Linked DNA regions of Homo sapiens. The protein of the gene in region 2 purifies or fractionates together with the protein of the main gene of each other region. This does not show direct contact. Each region holds a gene or a part of one and is shown on either strand. Other genes may lie near its edges.

What was found. Proteins that work in one complex are often made in the same cells at the same time.
Region 1: the proteins of TEFM (region 2) and HPSE purify together in Homo sapiens (affinity purification with mass spectrometry; one large-scale study listed by BioGRID and IntAct). This does not show direct contact.
Region 3: the proteins of TEFM (region 2) and A2ML1 purify together in Homo sapiens (affinity purification with mass spectrometry; one large-scale study listed by BioGRID and IntAct). This does not show direct contact.
Region 4: the proteins of TEFM (region 2) and MAEA purify together in Homo sapiens (affinity purification with mass spectrometry; one large-scale study listed by BioGRID and IntAct). This does not show direct contact.

What each region holds. Positions count from the first base shown.
Region 1 is NC_000004.12:83,327,490-83,332,771, reverse strand, and holds part of HPSE (heparanase isoform 1 preproprotein), read left to right. Parts: intron 1-5,282. UniProt on the Homo sapiens protein: Endoglycosidase that cleaves heparan sulfate proteoglycans (HSPGs) into heparan sulfate side chains and core proteoglycans. Participates in extracellular matrix (ECM) degradation and remodeling.
Region 2 is NC_000017.11:30,900,043-30,904,200, reverse strand, and holds part of TEFM (transcription elongation factor, mitochondrial), read left to right. Parts: coding exon 1-135; intron 136-3,638; coding exon 3,639-3,788; intron 3,789-4,158. UniProt on the Homo sapiens protein: Transcription elongation factor which increases mitochondrial RNA polymerase processivity. Regulates transcription of the mitochondrial genome, including genes important for the oxidative phosphorylation machinery.
Region 3 is NC_000012.12:8,849,198-8,854,479, reverse strand, and holds part of A2ML1 (alpha-2-macroglobulin-like protein 1 isoform 1 precursor), read right to left. Parts: intron 4,812-5,282; coding exon 4,721-4,811; intron 4,321-4,720; coding exon 4,206-4,320; intron 2,697-4,205; coding exon 2,468-2,696; intron 2,271-2,467; coding exon 2,144-2,270; intron 353-2,143; coding exon 231-352; intron 1-230. UniProt on the Homo sapiens protein: Is able to inhibit all four classes of proteinases by a unique 'trapping' mechanism. This protein has a peptide stretch, called the 'bait region' which contains specific cleavage sites for different proteinases.
Region 4 is NC_000004.12:1,336,841-1,341,496, reverse strand, and holds the end of MAEA (E3 ubiquitin-protein transferase MAEA), read right to left. Parts: intron 4,637-4,656; coding exon 4,503-4,636; intron 3,076-4,502; coding exon 2,880-3,075; coding exon of another isoform or gene 2,622-2,879; exon of another isoform or gene 2,430-2,621; intron 2,424-2,429; coding exon 2,328-2,423; 3' UTR 1,360-2,327; downstream 1-1,359.

The DNA of each region.
Region 1 (5,282 bases), on a different chromosome or scaffold from region 2:
AAAAAACATACAGTGGGACTTCCAGGATCTGGGCCTGATCACCCAGCAGTCAAGCTCCCCGCAATTGACTAACACCCCCCTAACACGTAGAAATTCCAATCTGCAATTTAGTGAGGATGATACCTTTATTCTTCTTAAATACATCTCTTCATTTCCCAGAGCACCCTTTTTTCCCCTCCTCTGCACCTTTTTGTTAAAGACTGGAGTATAATGAAATACCAAGAGAGCATAACATGTGATACATAAAACTTTTTTTCTGGTTTACAAAACAGTTCATTCTTGTCCATACGTGCTTCTCTCCAAGGCTGGCTGCTGTCTGTTCCAGCCCGCTTCGCTTGGAGAGGCCATCTGCCATACCTGCTCCCCAGACGCATCGACAAGCACACCCAGAGTGTTATCTGCTAAGACCTAAAAGAGGGAGGAACCCCCTCTCCTCATCTAAGACCTAGCTTCTAAATTAGAGTGTGAGGGTCCATCTCCCCAGGAGGGGCACAGGGCCCAAACAGCCCAGCCATCTCAGAAGACAACACTAAGCTTTGTAGGGGTCCACAGTAGAGGAGAGTAAGACGCCTGTTGTTTAATTTATTACAGTTCCTCAAAAGTGAAGATGTGTGGGCGGGATGGCAAGAGCTGAGCAGACGAAAGCTGAAGGAATAAGGAAAGAGAGGAGGACACAAACAGCTGACACTTCCTCAGTTCTTGTCATTTGCCTGGCCCTGTTCTAAGCACCTTCTAGGTATTAATCCATTTAGTCTTGGCTACAACACTGTGAGTGACTAGTTTTGTCACCCCCATTTTAAAAATGAAGAAAGTGAGGCTCAGGGAGGTTAAGTAACTTGGCCACAGTTTGAAACTAGACTCTGATCACATGAGATAATAGTGCCCATAAAAAGGGAAAGCAGATTATATTTTTTAAAGGAAAGAGAGTAGGATATGGTAGAAAAAGATTGTTTGGAAAGGAATTGAGAGATTGATATAATGAAAAGAAGCATTCACATGAGAGTAACAGTATCAGGGCCCAAACCTTCATCTAAGGTACTTCAAAGAGGCCTAAGCAAACTTAGTCACTGGCGTGGTTCTAGTCTCCATGATGGCAAATACATTGTGTACAGCCCAACTCCACACAAAACTTAAATACCAATGATAGAGCAATCTAAAATTTGAAAGAAAAAATCTTTCAATTTGTCGTCTTCCCAGAGGGACTTAATCAAGAAACCAATCAAAATACTTCCTAAGCCTAACTGTGTGCAGAACTCCAAAGAGAGCCCAGCCCTAAATCAACACTGTCCAATGGAAATATAATATAATGTGGGCCTCATATGCAAGGTCATATGTAATTTTAAATTTTCTAGTAGCCATATTAAAAAGGTAAAAAGAAACAAGTGAAATTAATTTTAATAATTTTATTTAGTTCAATAGATCCAAAATGTTTTCTCAGCATGTAATCAATATAAAAATATTAATGAGGTATTTATTATTCCTTTTCTCAAACCAAGTCTATTCTATAATCTGGCGTGTATTATTTACAGCACTTCTCAGACTATATTTCTTTCTTTCTTTTTTTTTTCCGAGACAATTTTGCTCTTGTCACCCAAGCTAGAGTACAATGGCGTTACCTCGGCTCACTGCAACCTCCGCCTCCCGGGTTCAAGTTATTCTCCTGCCTCAGTCTCCCAAGTAGCTGGGACTAGAGGCATGCACCACCACGCCTGGCTAATTGTGTATTTTTAGTAGAGACAGGGTTTCACCATGTTGGCCAGGCTAATCTCAAACTCCTGAGCTCAGGTGATATGCCCACCTCGGCCTCCCAAAGTGTTGGGATTACAGGCGTGAGCCACTGCACCCGGCCTCAGATTAACTATATTTCAAGCGTTCAGTAGCCACATGTAGCTAGTGCTATGGTAGTGGACAGTACAGATCTGCATTTCAATTAAGACACGTATACAAGCATAGTTCACTAATGCACGGTAAAAAAAAGTATAGTGCTGAGTCGGTGGTAGAAATCCTAAATACTGCAGAGCAAAAGTGGTACGAACAGCAATCTCAGTGATAATGCAACCATGCTTGCTTTTCATTGCAATTTGCTTATTTTCCTTCAGCAAAGTTCATCCATTTTTGCCAATTCAATAAATATTTACTGATAAAAACTTTCAATATTAGATTCTTGCATCTTCATAGACAGAGTTGCTTTTCACATTTAGAAAATTACTTATCAATGTTAAACACACGTTTTGATAACCAGTGTTGGAAAGAGGTGCAGACTCCCCATGTGCCTATTGATGGCAGAAATATTCACAGCCAAAGGGAAACAAAGGGCTGGGGACAATCACACACCTCATGTCTCCTAACTCCTGGGAAGTGCTGTCCCTCTGATTGAGCTCTTATTATTGCCTTCCCCACTAACCCTGTCCACTGTGCCCTGGAGCCCTTTGCAGGGTTACCTGCTCTGTCCTCCTCACAGAATATCTCCTCTACCTCCTTGTCCAAGCTACAACTTGGCTATTCTCTGATGACACTGTCTTCCCTGTAGCCCTTTTGAGTAATGGCTGCATATTCTCCCATAGTCCAGTTCTTTTCCTGTTCTCCAGTCTGGCTTCTGGATGACAGCCCACTAGTTTGAACTCCATACTGCTATAGTTCAAGTCCCTTTTGACTTGTTACCTTGGGCAAATTACCTCCTTTTGTTCAGGTTCCTTGTTTGTAAAATGACGATAATAATGCCATTTGCTTCAGTGGGTTATTTTGAAATTGAGTGAAAGAAGGCGGGTAGCTTCCCTACACGCTCAGTGTAGACTAGCCTGATGTGCATTACGGGTGATGCCATGACTCAGTGTGTTTTCCTCATCTCCACATCTGGCTCTCATCCAGTGCTCCTGCTTACGGCACTCTGTCCCCCTCTTACTTACTCCCCCTTATTAACTGAAGACTGGCACTGATCTCACAGTTTCCTCTCCACTTCCTAGTCTCACCATCATCCTAGATGACTTCAAGTCACCTAGATAAACTGTCTCAGTTTCTTCACTCACATTTTTTTATAACAGATAATGTTACACTCAAGTTGTAACAGAACCAGCTTATCCAGCTCATGAAATGTATGCATTTCATCTCAACTCTGTATTCAGTGACATCCTGTGGGTATCTGGAAATCAGCCATGGTGAGAATATTTACCATGGAAATTGGCAAATACTAAAAAGCAGAGCACCTTTTTTTCTGAGAGCCAGACCATAGCTCTTCTACTCCATAGCACCCATCATAACAATTTTTAAATACCTCCACTGAACAGCTTCTTCCTCTCTCTACTTCTTCCATATCTGATTTGAGCTTCTTAATTTATCATGTGAACCACTCTTGTAATAATAACCCCAAATCCCTGTTCCATTGTTCTTCCTGCTAAAATACTAAACCTGGTTTAGTCCAACCATATTTTCTCTCTTTGGAATCTACAGGGTGGCCCAAAAACCTGGAAATGGAAAAATATTACTTATTAATTTTAATGTATATTAATAAGCCATTTTAATGCTTCATTTCCAGTCTCAGTGGCCACCCTGTATAGCTGGGCTATTGAGCTCTTGCGGGAGGAGGGAGTGGACAGTCTCCCAGCCACACAGACTGATGTTGCACCAAACATTTTTTAGCTTCCAGACTTCCCTGGCCCTTAGTGTTACCCTTAACTCTCCATTTCTCTGCCTTTCACATTCTCTACTTTTTAAAAATCTCTGACTCCACCTTCACCTTATCATTCTTAGCACATGACCATACTTCTGCTTCCCAAAGAAAATGAGCAATTACTTCCTTTTCCTTTTCCTCCTGTCATCAAATCTGCAGACATGTCATGCCTAAGTCCAGCTTTCCTCCTTTCTCTGATCTCAGTCTGCTTCTTCCATTTCTGCCCTGAATCCCGTCCCCTCCCCAACCCCCAAGGACTTCGCTCTATCAGTCACCTCTTCCCTCTCCTGTATCTTCAACTCCTCCCATTTTACTGGCTTCTTCCTCAAGCCTTTCCCCAAGCCTTTCCCCAAGCCTTTCCCATCTCAATTACCTCCTCGCACATGCCTCTGCAGAAACCACCCCGTTTCTTCCCTCCCCTCGGCAGCCTGTTCTTCCTGTTCTGCCCTCATGATGGCACCATCATTGTGTCACTAAAATCAATCTCTCCGACATCATCAATGGCCTTCCTTTGTTGGGAAACCTAATAAACACTTTATCTTATTTGGTCTTTGTTATGGGTTGAATGAGGTTACCCCGAAATCCATATTAGAAGTCCTAACCCCCAGTACCTCAGAATGTGACTTTATTTGGGAATAGGGTCATTGCAGACGTTATTAGTTAGGATGAGGTCATACTGGAATGTGATGGGCTGCTTATCTAATATGACTGATGTCCTTATAACAAGGAGAAATTTGGAGACAGACACGCACATAGGGAGAATACCATGTGATGACAGGAGTTATGGAGTTGGAGTCAAAAAGCTATGGGAACTTAGGAGAAAGACCTGGAACAAATCCTTTCCTGCGCCTAGAGAGGGAGTATGGCCCTGCCACTACCTTGAATTCAACGTTTCGGCTTTTCAAAACTGTAAGACAATACATTTCTGTTGTTCAAACCAATTAGTTTGCAGTACTCTGCGACTGCAGCCCTAACAAACTAATACAGTCTCTTGGAGGCATTTGGCAAGGTTGACAATGGAAGCACTTTCTTACCCCTTTAGGTCTGTCGCCTTTCTTGTTGGGGGGTGTTTTCTAACAATTCCTCTCCATCTCTCTCTCTCTAGTTTGTCTTAAACATTGGTGTTCTTCAGACTTCTGACCTAGGCCTTCTTTTCACTTCACATATTCCCCTGGGTGGTCTCACCCACTTCCAGAAATTACTTAAATTACTGCTCATGCAGTACTGTGCTGGAAACTGTTTAACAACTGGCTCTCTGGGAAGAGGGGAGACTGGTTGATGGTTTTTGCTGATTTCTGTGGTGTAAATACTCCCTCCATGGCCAATTCCAAACTGCCAACAGTTTAACAACTGGCTCACAAATTTTCTCCAAATTTAACATTTGGCTTTCACAGGCCAACAACGTGGTACAGCCAACTCCAGCACACCTCTGCTTTTGTGTCAGAGAGAAGTAACTTATTTTTGTACAAAAGGTAAAATAAAAACACCTGCAGGCCCCCTTTTTTTCCTTAACAAACTGCTCTAGAAATAGAATAGCTGAAGCTTCTTTTATGCATTCATCTGTTATTTCCATGTCACTGTGGTGGTGGGATTATTTTTCCTTTATTTTTCTTGT
Region 2 (4,158 bases):
TTTAAGTATAAAAGTACAGTTCAAGTTTGTAACTCCATACTTTGTCCAAAGACTGGACGGGAAAAAAGAAAGTCACCGGAAAACCGGTTCCTGAGAAAGCTCCTCAAACCAGACATAGAAAGAGAAAGACTTAAGGTATATTCTTCATGTCTGCTATACTGCCTAATATTTGAGAACCTACTCTAGAAAGCACTCTTCTGGGCATTGGGTTGGGAAGTGGCTAAGACAGGGTTCTTCAGGTTTAGTTGGCAAGTATATGATCACTACCAAATAATGAGATGTACAGATAGTAAATTGGCAGTTGAGAGGAGAGAAAACAATGGGCTGTGACTGTTGTGGAAAGTTTACTGGAAGAACTCAATTTAGGTCTTAAAAGAGAGATCCTTTGGATGGGAGAGGAGGGCATTGTAGGTAGAAAGAACAGTTGATGCTGAGAAGCAGGTCTAGGCAAGGCTTATTTAAGAGGAGTGTCGTTGGAGATACCAGGCTGTGTCTAAGGGTGATGTTAGGATTAATGAGAAATTAAGGAGCAAAGATAGGTTATGGCCAGTGAGTGACTTTAGAACATTATACCAGTCTTTCCGGCAGAATTTAAAATTATTTTCTGTACCTTTTCTCCTTTAAAAAGCATTTTATCTTGAATCATGCAAGTCTATAGGTAAGATTAAAAAAAAAAAAAAAAAGCGGCTGGCTCACACCTGTAATCCCAGCACTTTGGGAGGCCAAAGCGGGCGGATCACAAGGTCAAGAGATCCAGACAATCCTGGCCAATGTGGTGAAAGCCCATCTCTACTAAAAATACAAAATTTAGCTGGGCATGGTGGCGTGGGCCTGTAGTCCCAGCTACTCGGGAGGCTGAGGCAGGAGAATCTCTTGAACCTGGGAGGCAGAGGTTGCAGTGAGCTGACATCACGCCAGTGCACTCCAGCCTGGCTACAGAGCAAGACTCTGTCTCAAAAAAAAAAAAAAAACACCATTCTAAAAGCAATTCTTTTTCTATTGTCTTAAAAAAATAAATACTAGAAATATTTGACACAGCCAATTTTTTTTTTTTTTTTTTTTTTGAGACAGAGTCTTGTGCTGTCGCCAGGCTGGAGTACAGTGGCATGATCTCACAACAACCTCCACCTCCCAGGTTCAAGCGATTCTCCTGCCTCAGCCTCCTGAGTAGCTGAAACTACAGGCACATGCCACCACGCCCAGCTAATTTTTGTATTTTTAGTAGAGATGAGGTTTTACCATGTTGGCGCCAGGATGGTCTTGATCTGTTGACCTCGTGATCCACCTGCCTCGGGCTCCCGAAGTGCTGAGATTACAGGTGTGAGACACTGCGCCCGGCCACAGCACTCAAGTATTAAACTTTAGAGGAACTCATGTCCTGTGTAACATTGCTTGATAATCATTATCTCATAAAAATCATAAGCACCATTTTTTTTCTGGACCAGTGGGTCCGTTTTTTGAGGAATATGGGTACTTTTGAAAACCTGATGAAAGCTGTGGACCCTCTTCCCATAGAAAAAGATATAGCACATATACACAGAATACTACACAGTTTCAGAGGACTGGCAGATTCTGTTAAGTCCACTCATGGACTCCAAGTAGAACTGCTGCAATTGATCTGGAACATATTTTAACCAAATTCTTCAGGGAGGATTCTCATCCAGATTCATGGCCAAAACTATTTATACCCAGATTAGAGTGGAGTTGCATCTTATTTAGGGGGCTGGATTTTAAGTCAGTTTTTATGGAGATATAAGTCATGCAGTAAAATCCTTTAAGAAAAAATCGATTGCCGACGAAGTATTGTGTGTAGTCTGGTTCAGTAATGCTTGTGCACAGTAAAGCTTGAGAGTCACTTAGCTAAAGAAAACCAAAAGGAAGTCTGTATTTTGGGCATCTATACTATTTTGTCTTTAAGATATTTATCCAGTCCTTAGCAATGAAAGGGAGATGGGTATACAACTAATTGTTCCTGTTTATTTGCCTCTGTATCTATAGAACATATTAGTTTGTTAATATAACTAAGTGAGCCATGTTGGGGAAAGGTGATAGCATTGTACTTCATCGTCAGCCCAGACTTGATAGGAAGCAAAATCTAAATATTCAATTACTTATTATATATCTCCTCTTAGAAGCCCTATAGGCAACCCAAACTTAATGCATTAAAAACAAACCAAAACAAAACAAAAAAATTTCTTCCCACCTTCCCTAGGTCATGTGACTCCTATCTTCGTCATCATTAATGATGCCATTCAGTCACTGATATAAAACTGGAATTATTCTAGACTCCTCGTTAAACCTATGTATTAATTCTGCTCCCACTATCTGTTTCTTTTCCTTCTGTCATTGTCTTCAATTCTTAACACTTTCTCATGTTGTAACAGGTACCTAACACAGATCCCTACCTTTAGTTCCCTCCAGCCCATCTTTTACACCATCAGTGATTTTTCTGAAATGTAAATCTTATGTTATTCCTTAAAATTCTGTTTTTTTAGTGGCCCCTGTAGCACTCAGGATAAAGCAAGTTACTTACCTTTATAGACATCTGCCTTGTCCTCTGCCCTTTTCCTATTCAGTCTTTATTCTACTGCCAGAGTGTGAGATGTCAAACAGCCTATCTTTCCAGACATCTGGGTGAAATAACTTCCCATTTACTGTCTCATTCTCCTAGTCCTCCAGTAAACCTTCCCTGACCACTTCTCTCTACAATAGTTTTATGGTGGCATTTCTTATAATGTACAGTTACGTTTGTTGTTTCCTAGTATCTAGTGCAGACCTTGGCTACACTTGAGTTTGAATGCCTACTTTGGGCAAGGTGCTGAGAATGAGTATAGGTCCTTTATCTATAAACTGACTGCTGCTGGTTACCTTTTAATAATAATTACTCCTTGGTGGCTCACACCTGTAATCCCAGCACTTTGGGAGGCAGAGGCAGGTGGATCACTTGAGGTCAGGAGCTCAAGACCAGCCTGGCCAACATGGTGAAACCCTGTCTCTACTAAACATACAAAAATTAGCTGGGTGTGGTGGCAGGTACCTGTAATCCCAGCTACTCAGGAAGCTGAGGCAGAAGGATTGCTTGAATCTGGGAGGTGGATGTTGCAGTGAGCTGATTGCGCCACTGCACTCTAGCCTGGGTGACAGAACGAGACTCCATCTCAAACAAAATAATAATTACTCCTGCATTTCTTTAATAATTCTCAGTTCATAAACTATAAATAAGTTTATATTACATAAACTAGTTAGGCATTCTGAATTTGTAGATTATGTTTGCATCTAAAATATTTACACTTCTGGCCAGGCACGGTGGCTCATGCCTGTAATCCTAGCTCTTTGGGAGGTCAAGGCAGGTGGATCATGAGATCAGGAGATCGAGACTATCCTGGCTAACACAGTAAAACCCCATCTCTACTAAAAAAAAAAATAAAAAAATTAGCCGGGCGTGGTGGCGGGCGCCTGTAGTCCCAGCTAGTCGGGAGGCTGAGGCAGGAGAATGGCATGAACCCAGAAGGTGGAGCTTGTAGTGAGTTGAGATCGCGCCACTGCACTCCAGCCTGGGAGACAGAGCGAGACTCCGTCTCAAAAAAAGAAAAAACTAAAATGTTTATACTTCTAATTAAATCAGTCTTTTCTTTTAGGCAGTTAATAGTATCATATCTATCGTTTTTGGTACTCGAAGAATTGCCTGGGCTCACCTTGATCGTAAGTTGACAGTGCTGGACTGGCAGCAAAGTGACCGTTGGAGTTTAATGAGAGGAATATACTCATCATCAGTCTATTTAGAAGAGGTAAGGCAGTTGCACCTCCAGATTCCTACCTGCTAGAGCTCCTTGTGTAGTTTAATCTTCTGGTCCCAAAAGGAATGTAATAAAATAGTAAAGATGGGTTTTCTTCTGGTACTTGTTACTCACTTATTCCTATTATGTTTTCCATCACCTTTGATTTTTAAAAATTCAACCTTTAGTTAGTTCAAGAAATGCCTTATGCATCGAAGGCAGATACTGAGAAAATCAATGGTATTTCATTCTAAATGTTATAGAACATTATCACTCTTTTATTTATAAAGCTTATTTTTCAAAATGCCATCACATTGTCTCATTTGAGTTTTCAAAACCTTGCGAAATGGTCAGGAATTATCACCTTAATGGTCAGGAATTA
Region 3 (5,282 bases), on a different chromosome or scaffold from region 2:
TTTAATTAGGTAAACTAACATTTGTTGAGTGCCTATGAGGTGCCGGGTTTTAGGTGCTTTCATAGGCCGTGGGTGTGGATTAGGCAAATGTTCAAGGGGCCAGGGAAGGAGAAAGTTGAAGCTGCCTGGTTGGACTGGAGTATGGTTGCTGTGAGAGACTAACTCACAGCAAGACGAGATGCTGAGCATCCCTCGGTTGGTTGCTGTCTCTACCTCTGAAGAAAACTCACTTTGACGAGAACTGGCTTGATGAGCGTGTCACTTCGGCCCTTTTGGGGAACAAACCCCTTCTGGCCCCCACATGGTTCATTGCTGTCCAGAATCTTTGTACTAATAGTAAAGTTAATGTGACCTGAGAGAAAGAAGAAGGGAAGCCATTAGCCCTATTGCCAGAGGTACCAGTGAGGTCCATTCCCATTTGGATCAGCATTTCTGAAACTTTAATGGGGATCTTGCAACAGTGCAAACTCTGCTGCCATAGACCTGGGGTGGGGCCCATATTCTGCATTTCTAACAAGCTCCCAGGTGATGCCAGAGAGGCTAGTCCAGTGTGGTAGGTAACCTCTAAGGGCCCTCAGAGATCCCTGCATCCTGATATTTACATCCATTGAGTGTGAGCTGGATTGAGTGACTCGCTTCTGTTAAAGAGAACAGGGTGAAAGTAATGACTCTTCTGGGATTAGGTTACAAAAAAGACTGCAGCTTCCATCTTGGGTGCACCCCTTTTCTCAAACTGCTTGCTCTGGGGAAGACAGCTGTTGTGTGATGAGGCAGCCCAGCAGAGAGATTCATGTGATGAGATACTGAGTGAGGCCCCTAGCCAAAAGCTGAGGTCAAGAACTGTGTCCTTCAGTCTAGCAGCCTGTAAGGATCAGAGACTTTGGGATGAGCTTGAAAAATCAATCCTCTCCTAGTCGAGTCTTCAGATGAAACCAGAGTCCTGACTGACAGCTTGATTGCAACCTCATGAGATACCTTGAGCCAGAGGTACCCAGCTAAGCTGCACCCAGATTAATGACCCATAGAATCTGTTTGATAATGTTTGTCCTTTTATGACACTTAAGTTTTACAATAATTTGTCAAGCAACATGAGATAACTCATACATATGAAAATCAAACTTTGAGTTGCAAGGATTTAATCTATGAGTGACTGACATCCCATAGGGTTGGGGGTGAGGATTAAACAAGTTAAAGGTGCAGTGACTCATTCTTGTAATCCCAGTACTTTGGAAGGGTGAGGCGGGAGAATCACTTGAACCCAGGAGTTTGAGAACAGCCTGGGCAACAGAGCAAGACCGCTTCTCTGCCAACTGAATTAGCCAGGCATGGTGGTGGCATGAGCCTATAGTCCCAGCTACTCCGGAGGCCTAGGTGAGAGGATCGCTTGAGCCTGGGAGGTTGAGGCTGCAGTGAGCAATGACCACACCACTGTACTCCAGCTTAGGTGACAGAGTAAGATCTTGTCTCTCTAAAAAAAAATAAAAGGCCAGGCGCAGCGGCTCACGCCTGTAATCCCAGCACTTTGGGAGGCCGAGGCAGGCAGGTCACCTGAGGTCAGGAGTTTGAGACCAGCCTGGCCAACATGGCAAAACCCCACCTCTACTAAAAGTACAAAAATTAGCCGGGTAGGGTGGCACGCGACTGTAATCCTAGCTACTTGGGAGGCTTGGCAGGAGAATCACTTGAACCCAGGAGGTGGAGGTTGCAGTAAGCACAGATTGCACCACTGCACTCCAGCCTGCGCAACAGAGCGAGACTTCCTCTCAAAAATAAATAAATAAAATAAAAATTAATTAGTCAATCAATTTAATGAGTTAATATATGTAAAGCAGTTAGAATAGTGCCTGGCCCAGGGACTCTTATAGTAAGTCCTTGATTAGTTACATGACCATGTATTCCTTGTCCAGCTATAAATATTAAAAGCTCTCCCTTTCACACTCAAAATATTCCGGTTTGAACAAATTTGTTTGGTCACCTATCAAAGAGTGTTTGTGTATTGACTTATAACAGCCTTAGGAGGGAGAAAAATAGTGGAAAATGGAGGAGGAAGCAAAGCAGATGTGGCAGAGGAAAAGACTGAGTGCTCAGTCACTGGTCTTCTGCTGCTGGCTTTCCTCGCCCGTCTACCACTTCCCTCTCTTACCCAATTTGACAGCTGTGATGTTCCAGTGGTGGGTTTTTGCGTCATCAGCACAGAGACAACTGGAGGTCTGAGAATCTGCCCATGATTCTAGCTGGTACTCATGCGATTTAGCCAGGTCAGTCTGAACCTACGGAGGATGTTTAAGAGACAAAGGGTACAAACAAAGGAGGTAGTGCATAGAGGCCTGGGGAAACCTGGGGGCTGAGACGCCGACATCTCCTCTCTTTCCCAGGGAAAATTGGGATGCTTCCAATTTAGAGACAAACTTATGGGGGAGGTGTGATTCCAGGGCTGACACCTGATTCCTGTATCCCCAGCTCTCACCCTGATGCAATCCTTTAGGTAATTGAAGATGGTGGCAGTAAGACGAAAGGATTCCCCACGGACTACTGAGTAAGGGAGAGTCAGGTCAACAAAGAACGGCTTGAAAGCAGTTAGTCCAACAGTGGGTGAAAGCCCGAAGCCTCTTGACTGGGAAGTGCAGAAACTCATCGCCTTCCACTCGGTGATGGCGTCAGGAACTGTGACGTGGACCGCCTCCTTCCCCGAGTTACTGTGAAAACACAAGGACCAACATGAGGCAGAGGTAGCGTGGGGCAAGGAGAACATTTGTGAATTAAGCCACAAATTCGGTGGGGTGTGCTGGCTTACACTTGTAATCCCAGCTCTTTGAGAGGCTGAGGTGAGCAGATAGCTTCAGCCCAGCAGTTTGAGGCCAGCCTGGGAAACATAGCAAGACCCTATTTCTACCAAAAATTTAAAAATTAGCCAGGTGTGGTGGTGCATGCCTATAGTCCCAGCTACTTAGGAGGCTGAGGCAGGAGGATTGCTTGAGCCCAGGAGTTTGAGGCTGCAGTGAGCTATGATTGCACCACTGCACTCCAGCCTGGGTGACAGGGCAAGACCCTGTCCAAAAAAAAAAAGCTACAAATTCATCTGCAGAAGTAAAATTGTTATTGTTATTGTATGGGGAGAAGTAAAGAGGCAACTGAACAGGTGAGTCTCAGTGTGAGTGAGGCTGCACTCATACGGAGGAGGGGGACTATGGTGGGGAGTCGGGGTGGGCATCTCTGTGCAAGCACATCTGACAGAGAGGCTGGTGCCCTCTGAGTCTGAGGATGTGTGGTCTCAGGGCTTGTCAAAATGGATATGCAAGCAGTGAGCAAAAATTGATGTCAATATATACCTTTAAATGTGTGTGGTTCTGTAGTGAGAACACAGGGCCTGCAATGTGTGAGTGTGGAATTGTGTGGATTTGTTTTGAGTGGTTGTATATGAATGCATGAAGAATTCAGGTAGGCCGGGCGCAGTGGCTCACACCTGTAATCCCAACACTTTGGGAGGCCAAGGCGGGTGGATCACTTGAGGCCAGGAGTTCAAGACTAGCCTGGCCAACATAGCAAAACCCTGCCTCTACTAAAAATACAAAACTTAGCCAGGTGTGGTGGCATGTGCCTATAGTCCCAGCTACTTGGGAGGCTGAGGCACAAGAATTGCTTGAACCTAGGAGGTTGAGGCCTACAGTGAGCCAAAATCATGCCACTGCACTCCAGCCTGGGTGACAGAGCAAGACTCTGTCTTAAAAATAAAAAGAAAAAAAGAATTCCGGAAAATAAATAAATTCCCACACCCCATCAAGCTTTCTTTGCTTAAGATTTAGATCCATTAGGAATGCGTCTGATTCTGAGTTTTCTACAGGCTCTACATTGCAGAATCTTACTGTTTTTTTTCTGGGTTTGTTGTTGTCGTTGTCGTTGTTGATTTTGAGAAGGGTTTTGCTCTGTCACCCAAGCAGGAGTGAAGCAATGTGATCTTGCTTCACTGCAGCCTCCACCTCCCAGACTCAAGTGATCCTTCCACCTCAGCCTTCCAAGTAGGACACAACTACCATCTGGCTATTTTTTTAATTTCTTTTGTAGAGACAGAAGCTCATTATGTTGCCCAGGCTGGTCTTGAACTCCTGGTCTCAAGTGATCCTCCCTCCTAAGCCTCCCAAAGTGTTGGGATTACAGGCGTGAGCCATGCACCTGGCCCTTTACTGTACTTTTGAGTCATCACTTACCCAATAGGAAACAGATCCCAGAGCCAGGTCTCTGGGAAGTACTGGCGGACCTGAGAATCCTCTGCTTGATGTAAAGGAGTTGATGACTCAAAAGCCTCTGGATGACCACCGCCTGCTGATGAAATTGAGAATACGAAAACTTTAGGAAACAGGAGACTTCTTGTTGTGACATAAATTGGGATGGAGGGATTACTAGAAAGAAATTTAGAGGGAAGCAGAGAACATCCAGTCAGAGGCAAGGAGGAAGGACCAAAGAGGAACTAACTAGTCACAAAGGCCATCGAGGGAAGTGATAGCCAAGGAGGTTTGGCCGGGGAATGGATACATAAGCTTCAGGCTTCAAAAGCTCTCCCCAGAGAGAGAACACTTGGGAAACTGTCCTGCATCTGTGACCCACAACCCATTAGCATTCTCGGGCTAGAGGCTCAGTGCAAGAACAGGAGGCAAGAGGAAATCTGCAGAGTTCCAGGACTGTTAACATCTCAGAGAATCCACAGACCACAGAGGTGGCTTACCACCCATAGCAGTGCTGTATTCTGGAGATCTGTGACTGCAATCTACTGGCTTCTTGATTTTGGCATTGGACAGTATTTTCAGGCCCACGTCCTGATAGGCATCAGAGAAATAAGTATTAAGGTGGTCCCTTCCCCAACTACAAGGGCTACTGCCCAGGAATTCCACCATCAAAGAGTTGAAACAAAACATTCTTTTTGAATTAATGGTGAACCTGGGTGTTCTTACCTGAAACTCAGCCACTGAGGCTGGTTGGCTTCTGTTCCAGCTAGCATGAAAGGCTTTCAGTTAAACTTATTTCATCATTACATACATGTAATGGTTCTGCCAAATATTATTCGCTATGTCCTTACTATTTGACTTACGCTGTAAACATGCTGAGGGTAGGGACCATATCAGCGTACTCAATTCAACAAAAATACAATGAGCCTTATGAAGGGTCAGGCATTAGAGAGAATACAAAGATGAACAAGACCTAGTTCCTGACCTCAGGGACCTCCTGGTCAGACTTGGGTCACACAGCATCCCAAATCCTGCTCATAGAATAGGTGCAAATTATTTTTT
Region 4 (4,656 bases), on a different chromosome or scaffold from region 2:
GTCCCTTTCTGGGGCCATGGGGACGTTCCATGCCTGGGCTTCAGTGGTGGTCACATGGAGGTACATTTATTAAGACTCATTGAGTAGCTTTTACTTGTATGTGCATTTTGGTGTATGTAATTTTTACCTCAATTGAGAAAGAGTACAGCGAGATAACACAACCAACAAAACATCTCACATTCAAGACTCCCAGTGCCACTCGCTGGTGTGGATGTGGAGCAGATGGGCAGAAGTGGGTGCAACCCCTTTAACAAACCGTCAGTGTCTGCTGAGTGGACACGTGGCCCAGCAATGGCAACTCCTCGGCATCTCCCCACAAAAGAATGATGCGTCCAGCAAGGGTCACCTCCCGGAGTGCTCACAGCAGCTTTACCTGGACACCGCCTGATGTCCACCGGCGGGAGAGGGGCCAGGCCGCTGCGCTTGTTCTGCCTGGAGAGCACAGGCCTGTAACCAGGCAAGACTTTGCCGTGCCAGGGCTGAGCCGCCGAGTAACGCTGAGCCACGGACCCACGCCATGTGGCTCTGTGTTCGAGGAGCTCAGGGCCGGGGTGCGCCACTCCAATGATGACTGACCAGGATATTGACCGGGCAAGGCCAGGGGCTGGGAACAGTCTGTTTGGTGGTTACATGCATGTTACACAGAAATTCGTTATGTGAACTTAGAATGTGTGTGCTCCAGTATGTTCTACTCGAGTTAAAAAGGAAAGAACAGGACGCAAGACAAGGAAAGCCCCTGCACGTGAGGACGGTGGAGGCCGGGGCGGCTGCGTGGCAGTGGGGCCACAGGGTCTGCTTCGGCCGAGGGGACCTGGGGACGGGCGCTCCAAAGAAGAGCACGTGGGAATGTGGTGGGTTCCAGCTGGGTGCTGTGGAGGGGCCAGGGCAGCCACCATGGGGTAAGAGATGGGCTAAGGGGCACCAGGCTGGCCACAGGAGCTGCGACGGGGCACTGGAGAGAACAGGGGTGGGCGGTGGGGGGAAGGGCCAGTGGCCACAGCCCGCAGGCCTCCTTAGCCCAACCCTAGACTCAGCCCAAGCCGCAGGCCCAGGCTTGCTGGTGGCTGCAGCCTGAGCCCCCACCCCCAACAGACAATGGCCCGTGGGTCCCAGGAACCAGTGTCTGATTCACCCAGCTGCAAGCCGGGGCCTCAAGACGCTGGGGCCATCACGCCTCAGGGCAGCGCCCGAGAGGAGGACTGCGGTCCGGGCAGGAGTGGCCTCCAGCCGGCTTCTCAACTCCCGGTGGCCGTGGTGCCAGAAGCTACGCATATGCCCGCCATGCTGCCCGGGCCCCGGGGAGGAGCAGAACACAACCTCGGTGTTAGAAACGCACGGCAGCCTCGGCTCACACGGAAATGAGAAATAGAAAACCATTTTATTCGCATGGTTTACATTTACAGTTTATTAGCTAGTCAACATCAACATGCAAAAATAAGCACTAACTACAAACCTCTACGATACGGTTCTCTGTCAGCTACGGTGGTTCATTTGTTTTGAAAAGTCATCAGTACTTCTTTCAACTGAACGATTAATTTCTGTAATGGATAGCAATTAGACTCTACAGTTATGGAACCATCCGGCAAGGCCTCTGCAGAAATTTGGTCCCGTGGATTTCCACGTTATACATTCTCGAAGCAGGAAGTAAGGCGGCACACAGAGGGTGTGATATCGAAACGACGCAGCTACGAACACAGCCCCGCGATGTGATATCGAAACTATGCACGTACGAACACAGTCCCGCGGACACGACCCGCGAGGCAGGCGGGCGTCCTCGAAGCCAGCCCCCGACGGTGGCGGCGCCAGGCGTTTTGGCAGCAGCTCTCGAATGAAGCCATAAGTGTCCCTCGTGGCGCGGCATCGCGGGTCACTGCAGGTCAGTCCGGTGCCGCTGCCACCTTCCCCGGCCAGGCCAGGGCCAACAGGAAGTGGTGAAGGACCAGCCCGTTCTCCAAGTCTCATCGTTCACAGAAGGAAAGAAACTGAAAACACAGGGAAATCACGGACTCCTATATTTTAAACGTTCTTAAGTTTCCCTCGGTGTTTAGGTCAGTCTTTAAAGAAGAGTTTCCTTCGCAAGTTGAAAGTACTTTTCAGAAGCATCAAATGGTTGACGTGTTACAAAATCCTACCAATCCAAATGTTTTCAAGTACAAACTTATGAAACCTTATTTTCTCTCTTCCTAAGAGTATTTATCGTTGCTCACGGATCTTTGGTCGCAAGAAACAGAAACGCCGCGGCAGGCTGGAGCGTGGGACAGGAGGAAGGCGTGGCCTCCCCGCCCACTGCAGCCCGTCCCCGAGGCGTGCGCTTCACGACGTGGGGCCTACATGATGTACACCTTCTCGGCTTGTGAGAAGTGGAAGACTTCTTTGGTTCTCGGGCACACGACTTTATCATCTTGACGGATAGAAAGCAGAGACTGAAAAATAAAACCGGGAATGCATTAAGGCAAGCGACTACAACGTACACACGGATTTCCATGGAAAATCCCCACAATGAACCACCAGGGAATGACTCATCCTCTCAGGCAAAGTTCCTTCCCGAAGGCACACCTGCCAAAGAAATCCCGGGGCCACCTCGCCTGTCCTTCCCACCCCTTCATCCATTTCGAACGAAGCTAAGGCAGGGTGGGGCGAGAGGACAGCCCTGTCCCAATGGCGACGTGTGCCAGCCTGGCCCCGCTGCCCTGCCCGCCCCACACAGCCCTGTCCCGATGGCGACGCGTGCCAGCCTGGCCCCCCGCCCTGCCCGTCCCACACAGCCCTGTCCCGATGGCGATGCGTGCCAGCCTGGCCCCCCTGCCCTGCCCGTCCCACACAGCCCTGTCCCGATGGCGATGCGTGCCAGCCTGGCCCCCCTGCCCTGCCCCCCTCACATTGTAGCCGTAGACGTAGCCGTTGGGCAGCATCATGGGCGGATTGTTCTCGTTCATCACGTCGCCAGAAATCTTGCAGACCAGGCGGGAGTTGGCACAGTGGGCCATGGGCAGGGGCTGCGCCAGCTTGTTCAGGGAGCGGCTGCACACAGGGCAGTCAGGGCTCTTGGAGCTGCCGTCCTCCTTGTAGCACTGTCTGAGCATCGGGTCAAGGAAGGGTTGGGGGCCACTCAGGGCAGCCGGGGTGAGCCCAGCCCCCTGTGGCCACTCTGCCCTGGGCTGCGTGCCCTTCTGGCTATGTGGGCGCCATGCTGACTACACGGGGCTGTCTTTCGAGGCACAGGAAGTGCTGCACTCGACAGCTAAACAGCCCCACTGAGGCCTCGGTGGAGACAAGAAGCCTGCGCCTTCTCACCCCGGCCTCCAGCACCAGGACCACAGGCACAGAGTGGCTCCGTCGCCCGCCGCCCTCTCCCCGGCCACGCAACCTCTCCAGGCAGGACAAGAGCCACCCAGCAGGGACGTTCTGCTGGCACCTAGGAACAGGCAGTGGGCAAGCACGCCAGCCCTCTCGCCCAGAGTTCCACAAAGAGGGGACAAGGGAGGGGGCCTGAGTCTCATTCATACCCCGGCACAGCCAGGTACCAGCAGCAATCGCGAAACACTCACTGCCCTCTGGGCCTGAGGCAGGTCACATGAAAGACATTCATAGGCGGGGACAGAGTCAGTTGCAGGAGGACAGTCAGTCACAGGTGGGGACAGAGTCAGTCACAGGTGGGGACAGAGTCAGTCACAGGAGAGGGCAGAGTCAGTCACAGGCAGGGGTAGAGTCAGTAAGAGGCTGAGTCACAGGCAGGACGGAGTCAGTCACAGGTGAGACAGTCACAGGGCAGGGGCAGAGTCAGTCACAGGCGAGGACAGAGTCACAGGCGGGATGGACTCAGTTGCAGGAAGGGACAGACTCAGTCGCAGGCAGGGGCAGAGTCTGTCACAGGCAGGAAGAAGTCAGTTGCAGGTGGGACAGAGTCAGTCACAGGAAGGAATCAGTCACAAACGGGACAGACTCAGTCACAGGCAGGGCCACAGTGAGTCGCAGGCAGGGACCAAGTCCGTTGCAGGCGGGAGCCGAGTGAGTCACAGGCAGGAACTCAGTGAGTCGCAGGTGGGACAGAGTCACAGGCAGGATGGAGTCAGTCACAGGCAGGGACAGAGTCACAGGCAGACAGAGTCGGTCACAGGTGGGACAGAGTCAGTCACAGGCGGGACAGAGTCAGTCACAGGCAAGGTTCTTGGTAATCACACGGGAAAACTATTCTGAATGGTAATCTGCCGGCTGCCAGAACACATCAAAATCGGGCTTTTAGATCAATGCCCATGGCGGCCTCTGAGATGATGAGAGAGGAAGCGCGCCACTTCCCAGAGTGAAGGCTGCACGACGCATCCGAGGCCCCTCAACACGGCCCCACCCCGACCATCCAGACACCACGCAAGTGCAGCACACGGGAGCTCGGGGCTGTCTGTGGTGGGAGGACAAGAGTGGCAAGGTGCAGGGTCAGCGTGTTAAAATATGACCAAAGATGCCAACCCCAGGCCAAACCGCACTGCGCACGGGAGGTAGGATACGGTGTCTTGATGGCTGAGAGGCCAGCCTGCAGGGTGAGGGTGAACACAGAATTGTTTCCCAGCTGGTGTAGTCGGTAGTTGTCGTACCGGAACTGCTGGATCAGCATCCGCCACCGTGCAGGGTCCAGAAGGTCCTGGAAGACAGAGAGCAGAG